Homo sapiens: one gene and its partner. The protein of the gene in region 2 binds, or shares a complex with, the protein of the main gene of each other region. Each region holds a gene or a part of one and is shown on either strand. Other genes may lie near its edges. The genes, in order: LIN54 and TFDP2.

Region 1 (8,927 bases), on a different chromosome or scaffold from region 2:
ATGTAAAACCAGCTCACTTAACAGAATATATCTGTGTGTTAATGTTAAGAACATTTAAAATGCAGACATTCATCAAAATATTAATATTATTATATCCTTAATCCCATATATAATAATACCTTTGCATTTTATTACAATTCCTTATTTTCATGTCTTGGATATATGCATATGATGAAAACAAAATTAATAATAATGCTTAATGAAAAAATAAAACTGTGGCACAGTAATATTCTTGTTCAAAATAACAAATTACTCAATAATAAAAAGAGTAAGTAAAGAAAGTATAGTGCGAATGACAAAGCCACCTATATACACAATTACATTGGCCCTTGGATGCAAAATATAAATAAATACACATTAAAGGTAGGCTTATGACTAGATTTTCAACTTTAGATCTAAATATCAGGAGTAGATTAAGGGAGAACTAAATAAGTTAAAGCCCTAGGGTACAAAAGAGAAAAATTTGGTAGAACAGAAACTATTATAAGGGCAACAGCTCTGAAATATTATTTACTAAACTATTATGTACTACACTTTTCTTCTTTTAAAGATGGGGTCCTGGCCAGGCGCAGTGGCTCACGCCTGTAATCCCAGCACTCTGGGAGGCTGAAGCAGGCAGACACTTGAGGTCAGGAGTTCAAGACCAGCCTGGCCAACATGGTGAAACCCTGTCTCTACAAAAATACAAAAATAAGCAGGGTGTGGTGGCGCACACCTATAATCTTAGCTACTCGGGAGGCTGAGGCAGGAGAATTGCTTGAACCCGGGAGCAGAGGTTGCAGGGAGTCGAGATTGCACCACTGCACTCCAGCCTGGGTGACAGAGTGAGTGAGACTCTGTCTCAAAAAAAAAAAAAAAAAAAAAAAAAAATACTGGGTCTCATCTCGTCACCCAGACTGGAGTGCAGTGGTGCACTCATAGTTCACTGCAGCCTCAAACTCCTGGGCTACAGCAACTGTTTATTATATTTTAAATTCCTTGAAGAGAGAAACTATATTTAATTCATCTCCAATTTGAAGTTACATATTGGCACACTGTTGACCTGAATTATAATTCTCCACAAGTCAAGGAGTGTAGAGTTACCAATTTTTTATATTGCGATTATCACCATATACAAAGACACAGCTTCTTCTAAAAGTTAAAAGAAGAAATTTACCTGGGATAAAAATCAAAGAATTTTAGAGTGTGAAGAACATTAAATATTAATTATATCTTTTGGCAATGAAAATTGAGACTGTAAAAGAACTATTTATTATAGGAAATAGTGACTCAAATGAAAAAATATGACCAACATGAATAACAGAAATACACCGGAAGTTATGATAGATCACAGAACTAGACAAATATTAGCTCTTTGTGCTCAAATTATAAATTAAACTAAATAACACATCTTACACCTACAATATATTACTTTTTTATACTCAGAGCACATTACTGACAAAAACCAACTGTATATAAAATACAAATCACTTAAAAAAAAACATACCCATTATTGTATTTAAAAACGGCCGACTTGCAAAACTATAACATACTCAAATAAATCTATAATTATACTCTAGAAAGCTAATGAAATTTAGAGAAATACAAATTTCTCAAGTATGTTTACAGACTTAAAACCCTAAAGTCAGTCAAAATTGTATCTATTGTATCTATAATATTAACAATCTCTAGAGGTAGAAGTATTAATATTCTTAGAAAGCCATATTAGCAATAAATAACCTTAGCTATAACAATTATGGGCTTAAAGTATTTCCCCATTTTAAACTGATTTTTCACAATCATGAGTATATGAATACTTATCAGTAAGAAAAAAATATAAACAGTACAACCAGAAGCACATTAATTATTCAAATAAACAATCTCATCTTGCCCTTGTGGTTATGTTTCTTTAGTGGTGCTGAAAATAATAACTTTTGGTTCCATTAAGGAACTATGATTTTTTTGCACTATGAATTCTAAAGTATCCTGGAACAAAATTATTAAGTAAAACAAAGCATCAAAGATTACTTTAACAAGTTTATAGAATCAGCAGCTTAAGATAAACATGAAAAAAAACTTACAAATAAGGTAGTAAAATATGTCATCAAATAATATATACAAGTAATTTTTGGCACTGTGTTGGATAGATTCAGGAGCTAGTAAGGAGTTATATTGTTCCAGACTGCTAGTTATGTACTACTCTTATATACTATGCACAGGAAACATGGGAAAGTGTTTATATATCTGTTATTACATATAATTATACCTCTGTTACTGCCTCTGGCTTCAAAGGTCACCTCTTTTCTTCATTTTTCAAGATGGCCTCCATCTTCCACCGTTGCCTGCTATCTATACCCTAACAGTCTCAATACTCTGACTAAACTTAACACTGACAACTACCTAGGGGGAAAAAAACCAGAAAATCATATACTCTTTGTAATACTAAACCAAATATTCTGGTGTCAAAAAAGGAAAAAATATAGATGCATAGTTTTTAATTTGTCTTTTGTGCTTCAGAGCTTTGAGGTTACTTCTGAGATGGAAAGACTTAAGTCGCCTAAAAATAATGGATTGTACAAGTAAAAAAAATTCTAAATCTAATTCCTTTTTATTGTTTTTTTTAATAGAATTCTTTTTTATTAGATAGAAACAGGCTTTAGAAAACTAACAATAGCCCAGGTGCAGTGGCTTATGCTTGTAATCCCAGCACTTTTGAGAGGCCAAGGCAGGTGGATTGCTTGTGTCCAGGAGTTTGAGACCAGCCTGGGCTACATGGCAAAGCCCCATCTCTACAAAAAAAATACAAAAATTGGCCAGGTGTGGTGGTTTGCATCTGTAGTCCCAGCTACTTGGGAGGCTGACGTGGGAGGAGCATTTGAGCTTGGGGGGTCAAGGCTGCAGTGGAGCACCCACTGCACTCCAGACTGGGTGACAGAGAGACCTGTCTCAAAAACAAAACAAAACAAAACAGAAAAGTAACAATAAAACAAGTTATAAGAATTAGACCCCAGTCTTTTTTTTATTGTCATTACTTAGGGAGTTAAAGTAGAGAAATAATAGATACAAGCAACACTGGTCATTGAAATGTCACATATACCTTGCTCTCATAAATGAAAAAAATGACATTCTAATTTATGATATCTTTTCCTTTTTTAGTTTATTTTTATTTTTTTGAGACAGGGTTTTCCTGTAGCCCAGGCTGAGGTGCAGTGATGCGACCACAGCTCACAGCAGCCTAGACCTCCCCGGCTCAAGCGACCCTCTCACCTCAGCCTCCTGAGTACCTGGGACCGCAAGTGTGCGCCACCATGCTGGGCTAATTTTTTGTATTTTTGGTAGAAACAGGGTTTCACTATGTTGCCCAGGCTGGTCTCGAACTCCTGGCCTCACAGAATCTGCCCACCTTGGCCTCCCAAAGTGTTGGGCTTACAGGTTCGTGAGCCACCACACCTGGCATCAGTTTCTTTTGAACATAATTATGATCCATATTGCCAAAGCCAAATAAACTTTGGTAAACCAATAAAAACAAGCTTCAAAACTGAGGACAAGATGCTTGATGGTGATAAGATATCTCATCCAAGAGATTCTTGGCAAAAATAAGAAGTAAAAGGAAGTCATAGATAAGTGAGAAGTAATAATGAACAAGAAAGAGCACTAAATGTTTAATAATGGCAAAGGGGACAGAGGCAAATTATAAGATTTAAGAAATTCTACAAAGTTCTTAAATGCAAAGCCCATGAAAAGTGGTTTCTAATTCTACTGTCAAAACAGTAACCAAAACATTACTCTAATATCAGCTGAGTGTAGTCTCCCAAAACCTTCCTACTTCCTTCTTATGCATTTCCTATTATTTCTATGCATTCAAAGACAACTCTTTCAAACAGAGGATACATTTTTGTTTCCTGGTCATAAGTATATCACTGCATTTCTTGTTTTTTTTTTTTTTTTTGAGATGGAGTTTCGCTCTTGTCACCCAGGCTGGAGTGCAATGGCGCGATCTCGGCTCACTGCAACCTCTGCCTCCCGGGTTCAACCGATTCTCCTGTCTCAGCCTCCTGAGTAGCTGGGATTATAGGCACTCGCCACCATGCCTGGCTAATTTTTTGTATTTTTAGTAGAGATGAGGTTTCACCATGTTGGGCAGGCTAGTCTCAAACTCCTGACCTCAGGTGATCCGCCCACCTCAGCCTGCCAAAGTGCTGGGTGGGATTACAGGCTTAAGCCACCACGCCCCGCCGATCACTGCATTTCCAAGAGTAGTGGTGGCCTAAGAAAGCCTATTTGGGCATGATAAACTGGAAATCACTTAATATATATTCCAGTAACCTTCTTTCTTAGGGTCCTATTCATACTAATAATAGGTACCATTATGAAACATCCTCAATATTTTGAGAATTATACTACACATTTCATCTTGATCAAAAAGTATTCTTAAGATAAAGTCAAAAACTCAGAGAAGATAAGTAACCTACGAAAGTTTTCCATAACTGGTAGGATAAGATAGAGGCAACTCAAGCCCAGTTGGTACAACTCTAAAGCCTGTATGTTATCTTCCATCACATGTCACTGTCTTTTCCATAGTACAAACATGAATAATGGCAATGAACAGTAAACTCCAAATAAAAGGCACACGCTGGCTGACACGCACTATTACTGGCTCTGAGGGTTTCTCAGAGCAACAAAGTTCTCCTAGCCTTTGGCCATCTGTGAACTGAAAAAAAAAAATGTTGTCTACATGATTTTTTTGATAGCCCAGCAGCAAGTCTGGCATATTTATACCAGCAAAACATCCTTGTAATCAAACTACCACTAAGAATAAAATGCATTTTAAAATTAGTAAAAGGCTATAAATATACTAATTTGGAATTTAACCAAAATTAAGTTTGCTTTCTAAGTTATCTGGTAAAAATTTTCATAAGCATTAGACATATCAAACTTAAAAACACACACACACAATTACATAAAACAACATTCAAAAGAATTCAGTAACAACTATGTATTTAGTAACCCTATAAACACAACTATGAATCAGTTAAATTTTTTTAAACATGCATTTTAATTAGTAAGCCCCCTTTTTTCTTTTACCTGTACTGTTTTTAACTGTTGGGTCTGTAACACAGAGGGCTGAGTTGTAGTATTAATCAGTTGACTTCCTGGGGTCAATGCTGAGACACCAATGACAGGTTTCACCTCTGGCCTCCCTCCAATGGTAACTACTTTAATTTGCTGCGGTGGTAACTTAGCATCTCCTGACTGGGCCTGAGTTGTAACTTTCTGAGCCTGGGGTAGTTGGCTATGGGGTAGTGCTAAAACAATTGGTGAACCAGACTTGCCCAAAGTTGTTAAAATTAACTTCTGTCCATCTGGTTTAAGGGTCTGATTGCCAAGTTTAAGATCAGATGTCTGTGATACTTTGTTTAAAATAATCTGATTGGCTGATATAGTCACAGGAGTCTGAGCACCAAGTTTTTGAAGGCCACTTGGAAAAGCTGGTTTCACTGTGGTATTAGAATCTGCTTTAGTAATTGTGGTATTCACTGCAACTTGGTTAGTGTGGTTACTGTACACTGTGATTGGTTCCGTGGAAATGGGCGTGGCTGTAGAGTCACCAGTAGAATTTATGTTGACAATTTCTTCCAGTTCTGTCTCCATGGGAATTGGGGATGAAACAATAACAGCCTCAATACTATCATCATCCACTAAAGTTATACCAGTGTCCATTATTTCCTCTGGAAGCAAACTATTCACCTCAGCTGGCACCACCTCCATGATCGTTCTCCCGCTAGAAAGTTGATCAGGCACTGTAATAAAAGTTGAAAAATGAACAAGTTACTAGGTTTCAAAAGATGTAAGAAAAAAATTCAAAAAAAATGCAAATGGCAAAATGACAATTTTTAAATTGATATATAATTGAATGAAGAATATTCCTGAAGCTTATCTGGGTTAAATCATGTTAACACATCCTCAACCTGCAAGAATCTATAATATAAGTCATATGGGAACACAAAACTAGAAGCAAACATTCTTACTCTCGTCTCAATCCACAAGTATCTTGCACTCAGGCAACACTAAGTCACATAATCACATGAAACTCCTTTCCAACGCCCTCTAATAAAATTTGTAATCTTTGATGTATCTGATCTTATTTCTACCCAGATTTTTTTCCTCTCATTGACAGACTTGAAAACTGCTGATTCACACAAGGAAATAAAGATTTAAATATTAACATATTGTAAAATACATTCAAATCTCCAATGAGCTACGTCCTAATATGAGTGTACTATCCCATTTTAAAAATCCATTAAATACCCAAATTAAAGTTAAAGGAGTTTCTAGAGTAATACATCTCAGCAATTGCAGATCAAATAGCATTTGTGGTACAACTTTGACCAACTAGCTTCATACCAGGGAAATTTTTATTTGGAAAGAAGATTCTCAAACCCTCCTTGGCCATTTACTTACTTACTTAATTAATTAATTATTGAGACGGAGTCTCACTCTGTTGCCAAGGCTGAAGTGCAGTGGCACAATCTCAGCTCACTGCAACCTCCGCTTCCTGGGTTCAAGCAATTCTCCTGCCTCAGCCTCCTGAGTAGCTGGAATTACAGGCGCCTGCCACCAAGCCGGGCTAATTTTTGTACTTTTAGTAGAGACAGGGTTTTGCCATGTTGGCCAGGCTGGTCTCGAACTCCTAACCTCGGGTGATCCACCTGCCTCGGCCTCCCAAAGTACTGGGATTACAGGCGTGAGCCACCGTGCCTGGCCATCCTCCGCCATTTAAAGTGTCAAAAAGAACCATTTAAGAGATGTACAGCCAATCCCCATGAAGAAAAAAAGTAATAATCATAAAGCAGATTACGAAAAACTTTGAGCTGTGGTACTTTTAGCCAAAGGTCTGTAGAACTTCCAATAAAGGAATCAATTTTATTATCTTCATGTATAAAAGACAGCACATCATGTTTATGACAGACTAAATAGCAGTGAGTTATTTGCCCAGAGAACATCAAAGATCCATAGGAACCAAATCAGCAACTTTCTTCTCTTCCTTTTCGTTTTTGAGACAGAGTCTCGCTCTTGTTACCCAGGCTGGAGTGCAGTGGCGCAATCTCGGCTCACCGCAACCTCCACCTCCCAGGTTCAAGCGATTCTCCTGCCTCAGCCTCCCAAGTAGCTGGGATTACAGGCATGTGCCACCACGCCCAGCTAATTTTTTGTATTTTTAGTAGAGACAAGGTTTCTCCATGTTGGTCAGGCTGGTCTCAAACTCCCAACCTCAGGTGATCTGCCCACGCTGGCCTCCCAAAGTGCTGGGATTATAGGTGTGAGCCACCATGCCCGGCCCCCTTTTTTTAAATATAAAAATACACCACCCCGGCTGGGCATTCTGGCAGATCACGAGGTAGGCAGATCACAAGGTCAAGAGATGGAGACGATCCTGGCCAACATGGTGAAACCCCGTCTCAACTAAAAATACAAAAATTAGCTGGGCATGGTGGCATGCACCTATAGTCCCAGCTACTCAGGAGGCTGAGGCAGAAGAATCACTTGAACCTGGGAGGCAGAGGTTGCAATGAGCCGAGATCGTGCCACTGCACTTGAGCCGGGCGACAGAGCGAGACCCCATCTCAAAAAAAAAAAAAAAAAAAAAAAAGATACAACACCCATCCAAAATTAACACACAAGTAGCAAATTACAACTATTAGCATTGGCAAATACTACTACCACCAAAATAAACCATCATTATTGAGTGCTTACAACACTGATGACGTAATTTAATTTATCCTCACAACAACTCAGAAATGGGAATCATCATTATCCCTGTTTTATAGATGAGGCCATTTAGAAAGGTTAATTTGCCTAAGGTCACATAGCTAGTAAATGGTAGAGCCAGGACTCCAGCTCAGGTTTTTAATATGCCACAGTTAATTATCTTGGCTGGGCACACTGGCTCTTACCTGTAATCCCAGCACTTTGGGAGGCCGAGGTGGGCAGATCACCTGAGGTCAGGTGTTCGAGACCAGCCTGGCCAACATGGCAAAACCCCATCTCTACTAAAAATACAAAAATTAGCTAGGCGTGGTGGTGGGTGCTTGTAATTCCAGCTACTCAGAAGGCTGAAGCACAATAATCGCTTGAAGCCGGGAGGCGGAGGTTGCAGTGAGCCAAGATCGTGCCACTGCACTCCAGCCTGGGCAACAGAGTGAGACTTTGTCTCAAAAATTTTTTTAAAAAGATGCCACAGTTAATAACCTTAATCCCAAAATTATACTCCCTTAAATGTTGCCATTGGTGTTTTAAAACAGGGAAAAAATAAGTCTACTTTTCTAAGAAAAAAACAAAAAACAAAAAACAAACGGGATACATGTGCAGAACATGCAGGTTTGTTACACAGGTATACGTGTGCCATGGTGGTTTGCTACACCTGTTGACCCCACCTCTAAGTTCCCTCCCCTTGACCCCAACCCCCCACCAGAACATAATGTGTGTTGTTCCCCTCTCTGTGTCCATGTGTTCTCAATTCTTCAACTCCCACTTATAAGTGAGAACATGCAGTGTTTGGTTTTCTGTTCCTGTGTTAGTTTGCTGAGAATGATGGCTTCCAGTTTCATCCATGTCTCTGCAGAGGACATGATCTCATTCCTTTTTATGGCTGCATAGTATTCCATGGTGTATAAGTGCCAAATTTTATTTATCCAGTCTATCACTGATGGGCATTTGGGTTGGTTCCATGTCTTTGCTATTGTAAATAGTGCTGCAATAAACATATGTGTGCATGTGTCTTTATAGTAGAATGATTTATATTCCTTTGGGTACATACCCAGTAATGGGACTGATGGGCCAAATGGTATTTCTGGTTCTATATCCTTGAGGAATCACCATACTGTCTTCCACCGTGGTTGAACTAATTCACATTGTCATGAACAATGTAAAAGCATTCCTATTTCTCC
Region 2 (8,927 bases):
AAACTTGTGGCCATTGTCTGTAGTTTCTCGGGCGGTGGGTGTCGCTGAGGGGTGGAGGACCGCCATGTTGGTCGCTCCTTTCCCGCCCTCCTCCAAGGCCCACCTTGATCATAAGGCACAAGGTATACAAACACCACAACTGCTCTCACCACAGGAAATAAGCACGTGGAGGACACAGACTGACAGCGGGGAAGAGGAAGGCAGCCTAGTAGGCACCTGGGGCCCGTAAGCGCTGCTGTGTGCCTAGGCAGCACCGCCCTACCCACTGAGGGCCAGGCACGCAGGTCCTAGTGCCACTGTGCGTGTGCTAAGTAGAGCCAGCACTTCCTCCATGAATGACGCCACACGCCTGAAAGGGGGACAGCCACACCCTCAAGGGGAAAAGGCCTCTTGAACTCCCCACAATCAGTGTGTGCCAGCAGCCCTGGGAGGAGTGATCTGTGTGTGGCAAGTAACCCAGCGTGCCACTATAACAAAGAAGCCTGGGCATTGTGACCACAACTTCCATTTTTTTTTTTTTTTTTTTTGAGACAGGGTCTTGCTCTGTCACCCAGGCTGGAGTGCAGTGGTGTGATCTTGGCTCTACAACCTCCGCCTCCTGCGCTCAAGCAATCCTCCCACCTCAGCCTCTTGAGTAGCCAGGACTACAGGCATGCCCCACCACACCCAGCTAATTTTTGTATTTTTGTAGAGACAGGGTTTTGTCATGTTGCCCAGGCTGGTCTTGAACTCCTGAGCTCAAGCAATGTGCCCGCCTCGGCCTCCCAAAGTGCTACGATTACAGGCGAGAGGCACTGCACCCAGCCCATGGTTTCCTAACACTGCCTCACTTTGATCTTGTGTGAAATTGTGACTCAGTGCTGAGCTTTAGACCCAGATAAATGTTGAGGGGGAATACAGAAGAGAATTGACCTTTCTGAACAGCTCAACCTAGTTTCTAAAGGCAAGATTTTACTCCAGCGACATGTACTGGTGACCATGATGTCACTCTGTGAGCTGGCCTCACCAGTAACCCAAACACAACGCTGAGGAAGGAGACCATTTCCCACCAACAGCACACACCTATGGCTGGGGTGGCCAATGATGGGGCACCAATAAGGATAAGAGTCTTTGGCGGCTTTCTTTTTTTGAGCCCATATTTTATCAATTTAAAGCATGAGAGCAGCAGAGATGGAGAGTAGAGAAAAAAACAGGTTTCCCAAGAACTCTGGCAAGAATGTTGCTACTTGGTGAAGGAATGGTTATCATTAGTGCACCTGTCTTAAATCCTGAAATGCATCTTGGGACCTGCAGTTCAATATTTTGAAGACTACAAAGGTAGCAGTGGCTGTTGGCCTCTCCAGGTCCCTGCTGGGTCCCAGAGATGAGAAAGGGTGGAGTTAGTAAAAGAGGAGGCTGCCCCTTAAAGGACAGTTTGGTTTGGAGGGAAATCCCAATCCGTGCAGCTGAAAGATTCCCTGCAGGCCCCTGGGGACCTGCTGTCACCTCCCCAGTGTTCCTGACTGGTCTGAGAGGTGTGCTCCAGAACCCACGATAAGACCGAGTTCTCTAGAAACTGCCTCTATCTCTGAGTCTGTACTATGGCTTATTTCTGACAGAATGAAACTTTTGTATCAAAGGAGCTTCAGCTAAAGTTGAATGTTTTTCTTTCTCAGTTTTTATGGCCTTATTAAACATGTTTAGCTAGCCAAAGCTTCCTCCTCCTCACCATGCTCAGTGTTAGCATGGTGGTGAGGCTATAAAGAGGCACCACAGGAAGGAGCCTGCACTTCCCCCATGGGATTTAAAAAAGAACCAATTTGGGCCATGCTTGGTGCATCTAGCATAATCTTGGGACAAATCCACATGATTCAGGTCAAAGTTTTGGAGTTAATTCTCCCATTATTATTTGCTCCTTTCCAAAGCCTTAATGTGAAATTCAGTCAGGGTCTGGCCATGGTGGCAGGTGTCCCTACACTCTTTCATTCAGAGAAGGAGCAGCTGTGAATACACCACTGCAGTATTTCTAATGACATCTTGAGCCATAAACAACATAACTGCACTACCATATATCCAGGCAGTAGGAGTGTTCAACGTTTTCTAGTGTTTCTGTGAAACACTAAATATTGGATTAGTTTGAAATGCAATTGACCCCAGGAGTAGGCTCAATAAGGTCATTCTGATTAATGAAAATGTGAAAAAAGGTGACATGTACAAGGAAACACTGCTGTTCATATTCTTGAAATAGACTTTTCTTTAAGACAAAAGTAATGACATTTGGTTCATTTTCACAAATTGCACACTGGGTGAGATCATACAATTACTGCAGGGAACTGTAGGCAAGCAATTTGGTCATAGGAATTTGTTTCTTTGTCTTGTTTTAAATGAAAAAGCTATATGAAATGCATAGCTTTGATTAACCTAAAGATACAGTTTCCTTCTTTGTAAAACTCCAGATTTAGGATGCTGGCAAAGGCAGTGCTGGCAAAGTATTTAATGCACATGGAAATGCTATTCTATTTTGGCTTCCAGAAGTAGCCCTAGTAAATTCTATGCACCAATGCATTGGCTAATAATAATTTCAGTTTTACTATAAATTATCTAAATGTCACTTAAGTACTTAAGAAGTAGCGCTCGCTCCTTTCTAGAAGCTGTCTAAGGCAGCTGATGCGTAAAGCACCTCATCTAGACCTCCAACTAGTTCAGCAGTTCAATCTGTGCCCCTCAGCCACAGGACTGCCCTCAGTATCCCTCACTACACAGCTCCCCTCTCCTGGGGACTTTTCATGTTCATTTCTGCCTTGTCAAAGGCAGTCCAGGCAAGGAAGAGAAACGTCAGAAACACGATCGTCAAGGACTGCTCCGTGTAGCAATCTCAATTCTAAGAATAATTACATGGGTGTGAGGAACACAAAAATCCCACCTCACAGAAGATAAATGAGTTGCACTCACACTGCCAACTCTTCAGGGATTATCCCCACTATCTCCTCAGAAAGCATGCTTTCTTTGTTATATCATCTACTGCTCTGTTGGCCAGACTTTCATTCACACTATGTTAACTTTCATCTCAATCATCTCAGCCTTCATGTGATTTGCTTATTGTGTTTCTCTAGTTTTCACTGAACACACAGTGCAAACAAAGGCAAAGACTGAAGCAATCATTTCAAAAACAAGAGCTCACACTACAAACACACATGAGCATCACATATTGAAACGTAGGCTTTCTCTTGTCTTTATTCTGGGGAGGAGGAATCCTCCTCATCATCTTCCTCATCTTCATCATTGAACGAACAGGGGGTCTCGCCTCGGGACTCGGAGCAGTGAGAGGCCGCACTGCTGGACTGGTGACTGTTTGGGGCCAGGAACTGCCCAGTTGCTAAGGCCACTTCTGCATCCAAGCATAACCCTTGGTTTACACTAGCAAACAATTAAAAACACACAGGCTCATTAATGTGGTATAAACAGTTTTGTAAAACATAGGAATAAAAACAGGAAGGAGGTGCCATTGGTGAGATCTGCCACAAACCTGCTCAGCAGGACCTGTGCTGGCAGTAACATGACCCCGGCTCACCCCTACACAGACAGTCAGGGCTCTGGGGTTTGCCTTTCTAACCCTGAAAAAAATACGTACCTTGACTGGGGTAAGGTGGCACCAGTGGTCAGGTCTAAATTTGAAACTGATTGGGTAGAGTTCAGAAGTAGTCCCTGATTTAACCAAGAAGGTCCTGTGGAGATATCTAAAGGAAAAAATGAGAACAAAAAATGTCGGTCCTGCAAGTTCTGTGGCTGCTGTTGTTACAGTCTGAGGAAAGCACAGAAAAGCAAGAGCTAAGCTTATTCTTCATGACAGCTAGACAATTCTCTTGCTGTGACAAGAACCCAGGTTTCTTCATCTTCTTGGAAGAAAAAAAAATTTCTAGAACATAAGAGCAGGAAAAAAAAAATACGGGAAGGCAGCTTACGGAGAGAAGGTATTCAAATGAAAACACTCAAAGGCACTTTCTTACTCTTTTTCTTAGATAAGCCCTCCAGAGCACAGCCCATGGGATACATCCCAGTGTACCACCCTCAATGCCTTCTGCCCTCAGCACAAAAGACCTGGACTGTGGTGTTGAGAGCCAAAGCCAGAAGTGGGAAAAGAGAAAATCAAATCAGAAATACATGAGGTAAGAAGGCCACCCTGCTTAGAGGGCAGACAGACATGTTTTGGCCAAAACCCCCGCCGCAATGTCTTTTCAGGTGCCTGCTGCTGGTGAACTCAATGCTGCTACTCATCAAATATCTATTCTTTTTCCTGACAAGATTTTTCCTGGTGTCTGTTGCTTTCTAATTCAAACTAGCTCTTATTTTATTTTTTTTATTATTATTATACTTTAAGTTTTAGGGTACATGTGCACAATGTGCAGGTTAGTTACATATGTATACATGTGCCATGCTGGTGTGCTGCACCGATTAACTCGTCATTTAGCATTAGGTATATCTCCTAATGCTATCCCTCCCCCCTCCCCCCACCCCACAACTAGCTCTTATTTTAAAAAGGTCACATGCAGTCATGTTTTTAATGAGGCAGACACAGACGTTACTGTTTTAGTCTACAGAAAATAGTTTGGGCTGAGCACGGTGGCTCACGCCTATAATCCCAGCATTTTGGGAGGCCAAGGAGGGCGGATCACCTGAAGTTGGGAGTTCTGTCCAACATGGAGAAACCCCATCTCTATTAAAAATACAAAATTAGCTGGGCGTTGTGGTGCATGCCTGTAATCCTAGCTACTCGGGAGGCTGAGGCAGGAGAATCACTTGAACCCGGGAGGCGGAGGTTGCAGTGAGCTGAGATTGCACCACTGCACTCCAGCCTGGGCAACAAGAGCGAAACTCCATCTCAAAAAATAAAAGAAAAAAAGAAAAGAAAATATTTTGGATATCTCCTTGCCATCTTCTTTTCTATACATATACCACATTTATCCTATGACAACACTGATCAATTCTTATTGTAATTTTACTGGTTTAATACTTTTTATCTTCCCATCTACAGTGTTAGCTCAAAGAAGGCAGTAACTGGAACATGTAAGATCTAAATGTGGCGGGGCGCGGTGGCTCATGCCTGTAATCCCAGCACTTTGGGAGGCCAAGGCGGGCAGATTGAGCTCAGGAGTTCGAGACCAGCCTGGCAAATATAGCAAAGCCCCATCTCTATTAAAAATACAAAAATTAGCCAGGCATGGTGATACATGCCTGTAATCCCAGCTACTAGAGAGACTGAGGCAGGAGAATCACTTGAACCCAGGAGGCGGAGGTTGCAGTGAGCTGAGATCGTGCCACTGCACTCCAGCCTGAGTGACTGTCTCAAAAAAAACAAAAAAAAACAAAAAAACAAAAAAGTTACTGAATGAATGAGTATAGTCTCTGTCAGCTGCCACTTTACAAAATAAGTGGTAGATACATTAAAAGTAATTCCTAAAAAGAAATTCTATAAGCCCAAACACATACTCAGAAAATGTAATCTGCCAAAATGAGCTATGATTTAATTGAATCAAAATCTTTTTGCAATTACTATACAAAAAAATGAAACTATATGATTTAGATTGGAAACTCTGGTATCCAAACAAGAGGCCATTCCCACGTAGGAAAAAAGTAAACTAAATGACTATGCTAATTTTAGAACCGTCTTATGAACCTTTTTCTTTGAGACAGCTGGGAAAAAAAAGAGACTTCAAGTCTAAGAAGAATAGCAGACTTTAAATACATTAAATAACGACAAGTCTGTACAAGAAAATAAAATTAAAGCCAGAATCTTGTGCTGAATATTAATTAGTATATAGAACTATAGAAACCTTCTGTCAGAACACAGCTATTTACTTGTTTGTGAGCATAACACATTACATTCTCTTTTTACAATGAATTGGAAAAGCCTACATTTCTTTCCTATTATCACAGGATCCACACAATGGTTCTCACACTCCCACCCAGGCCATTCTGCCCCTTTACACACGAGAGGCACATGTTTCTTCCTTTGAACTAACCAGAAAGTCTGTATCCCAGTCTGCAAATGAGGTCACGAAGAGATCAAAACCACAGAGCCTGCCTAATCGCCCTGAGCCTTTTCACTGGGAGTAAGCTAAAATAAAGTTCTGGTGATTTATTGAGTAAGCCCTTTATTCAGATTCTGCTGGCCTTCCAATGACACAGCAGGACCCAGGCTGGAGAGCGTGGAGAGAGGAAAGCTGGGTGGGGAGACGGAACAGGTGGGCTGAGGGGCAAGGAGAGGCGGGGGGCCCTTGCAGGGGATGAATGGTGCCAACCGAAGAACTAAAACAGAAACCAAATCTCAGCCAACAAACTCTTCTGTTGTGAGCAAAGGACCAAATCATAGAATAAAACAAAATTAAAGCTACCTTTTTGCTTACATTGGATTTAATGTATCTTAGACCTAGTATTAAAATGCCTTTAAAAAGCGATGTGAAATTCTAGATGGTTATACTTACAAATAAAATAAACAAAAGAAAGCAAAGGCAAAAACACTGCTTATATATTCATTTCTTTTTTTAAAAGACAGAGTCTCGCTCTGTTGCCCAGGCTGGAGTGCAGTGGTGCAATCTCCGTTCACTGCAACCTCTGCCTCCCAGGTTCAAGTGATTTTCCTGCCCCAGCCTCTCAAATAACTGGAATTACAGGCATGTGTCACCATGCCTGGCTAATTTTTGTATTTTTAGTAGAGATGGGGTTTTGCCATGTTGGTCAGCCTGGTCTTGAACTCCTAACCTCAAGTGATATGCCTGCCTCAGCCTCCCAAAGTGCTGGGATCACAGGCGTAAGCCACCGCACCCAACCTATATAGTCAAATTGTATCTACAAAATATGTAATATTTTCAGGAATTAGGAAAATCAGGAAGATTTCTAAATTAGTGAAAAAAATCTTAATTATAGGACATGTAAAACATAGTGCTTCTGTTTTCAAGTATACTCAGTATAACTTTACAACTCTATAAAAAGACAAGTAACTCTACTTAAAAATGAGCAAAGGATGGACTGTGGGAGGCCGAAGCGGGTGGATCACCTGAGGTCAGGAGTTCGAGACCAGCCTGGCCAACGTGGTGAAACCCTGTCTCTACTAAAAATACAAAAATTAGCTGGGCGTGGTGGTGGGCGCCTGTAATTCCAGCTACTTGGGAGGCTGAGACAGGAGAATCGCCTGAACCCGGGAGGTGGAGCTTGCAGTGAGCTGAGACTGCACCATTGCACTCCAGCCTGGGTAACAGAGAGAGACTCCATCTCAAAAAAAAAGTCAATGTGAATAGACATATTTCTGAGGAAGACATACAAATAGTCAATAAACACATGAAAAGATGCTCAACATCAGAAGTCATTATGGAAATGCAAATCAAAATCACAGTGGGAGCCAAGGCAGGTGGATCGCTTGAGCTCAGAACTTTGAGACTAGCCTGGACAACATGGCAAAACCCCATCTCTACCAAACATATCAAAAAAAAAAAAAAGATTTAACCGGGCATGGTGGCACACATCTGTGGTCCCAGCTACTCAGGAGGCTGAGGTGGGTGGATCGTTTGAGCCCATGAGTTCGAGGCTGCAGTGAGCAGAGATTGCGCCACTGCACTCCAGCCTGGAGAGCAAGACTCTCTCCCCTCCACCACCACCCTGCCCCACCCCCCCCACAAAAATCACAGCGAGATATCACTTCACTTCTGTGAGGATGGCTATAATTCAAAAGATGTATAGTGACAAGTGTAGAAAAGGATATGGAGGGCAGGCACGGTGGCTCACATGTATAATCCCAACACTTTGGGAGGCTGAGGCAGGTGAATTCAGGCCAAGAGTTCCAGATCAGCCTGGCCAACATGGTGAAATCCTGTCTCTACTAAAAATACCAAAACTAACCGGGCATAGCGGCAAGGTGCCTGTAATCCCAGCTACTCAGGAGGCTGAGGCAGGAGAATCACTTGAACCTGGGAGGTGGAGGTTGCAGTGAGCCAAATTACGTCACCGCACTCCAGCTTGGGCGACAGAGTGAGACTCCGTCTCTAAATAAGTAAGTAAGGATGTGGAGAAATTGGAACACTTATCCACTGGTTGGACTGTAAATGGTACAGGAGCTTTGGAAAACAGTTTGGTATTTCCTTAAAATGTTAAACACAGAGTTACCATATGACCCAGCAATTTCACTCGTAGGTATATGTTTTTAGAGATAAAAACATATGTTTACACATAAACTTTTATAAGAATGTTAACAGCAGCATCATTCGAGATAGCCAAAAAGTGGAAACAGTCCAAATATCTACCAACTGATGAATGGATAAACAAAATGTGGTCCATCCATACAATGGAATAGTATTTGGCAATAAAGAGGAATGAAATACTGATGGTGCTACAACATGAACGAACCTTGAAACACTACACTAAGTGAAAGAAGCTATCCACAAAATGCCCCATGCTGTAGGGTTCCATTCACATAAAGCGTCTTTCTAGAATAGGCAAATCCATAGTGACACAAAGTAGATTAGTGGTTGCCAGGGGCTGAGGGAGAATGGGGGAATAGAGACTGTTAATGGGTTTGGGTTTCTTTTTGGGTTTTTAAATTAAAATATTCTGGAATCAGATAGTGGTGATGATTAGCAACCTTGTGAATATACCAAAACATCACTGAACTGACATTTTTAAATGGTGTATTTTATGGCATGTGAATTCAATCTCAATTTAGAAAAGCTACAATGGTATCATTTCAGACCCACCTGATTAGGAAAATAGAACACTTCTACTCTGCTGGGGAACGTGTAATTTGGTAAAATCAAATTGAAAATTTTTGGTATCATCTAGTAAAGCTGAAGATGTACCCAACTCTGACCTAACAAGTTCAATCTGTACGTTTGCATGTGGTCACTGGGATACATGTATAGGAATGTTCAAAGCAGCACTGTATTTTAACATCAAGCAAT

What was found.
Region 1: TFDP2 (region 2) and LIN54 share a complex: the UniProt entries of both Homo sapiens proteins name them as parts of the DREAM complex.

What each region holds. Positions count from the first base shown.
Region 1 is NC_000004.12:82,979,097-82,988,023, forward strand, and holds part of LIN54 (protein lin-54 homolog), read right to left. Parts: intron 5,781-8,927; 5' UTR 5,749-5,780; coding exon 5,065-5,748; intron 1-5,064. UniProt on the Homo sapiens protein: Component of the DREAM complex, a multiprotein complex that can both act as a transcription activator or repressor depending on the context. In G0 phase, the complex binds to more than 800 promoters and is required for repression of E2F target genes.
Region 2 is NC_000003.12:141,949,301-141,958,227, forward strand, and holds part of TFDP2 (transcription factor Dp-2), read right to left. Parts: intron 3,717-8,927; coding exon 3,611-3,716; intron 3,397-3,610; coding exon 3,213-3,396; 3' UTR 1-3,212. UniProt on the Homo sapiens protein: Can stimulate E2F-dependent transcription.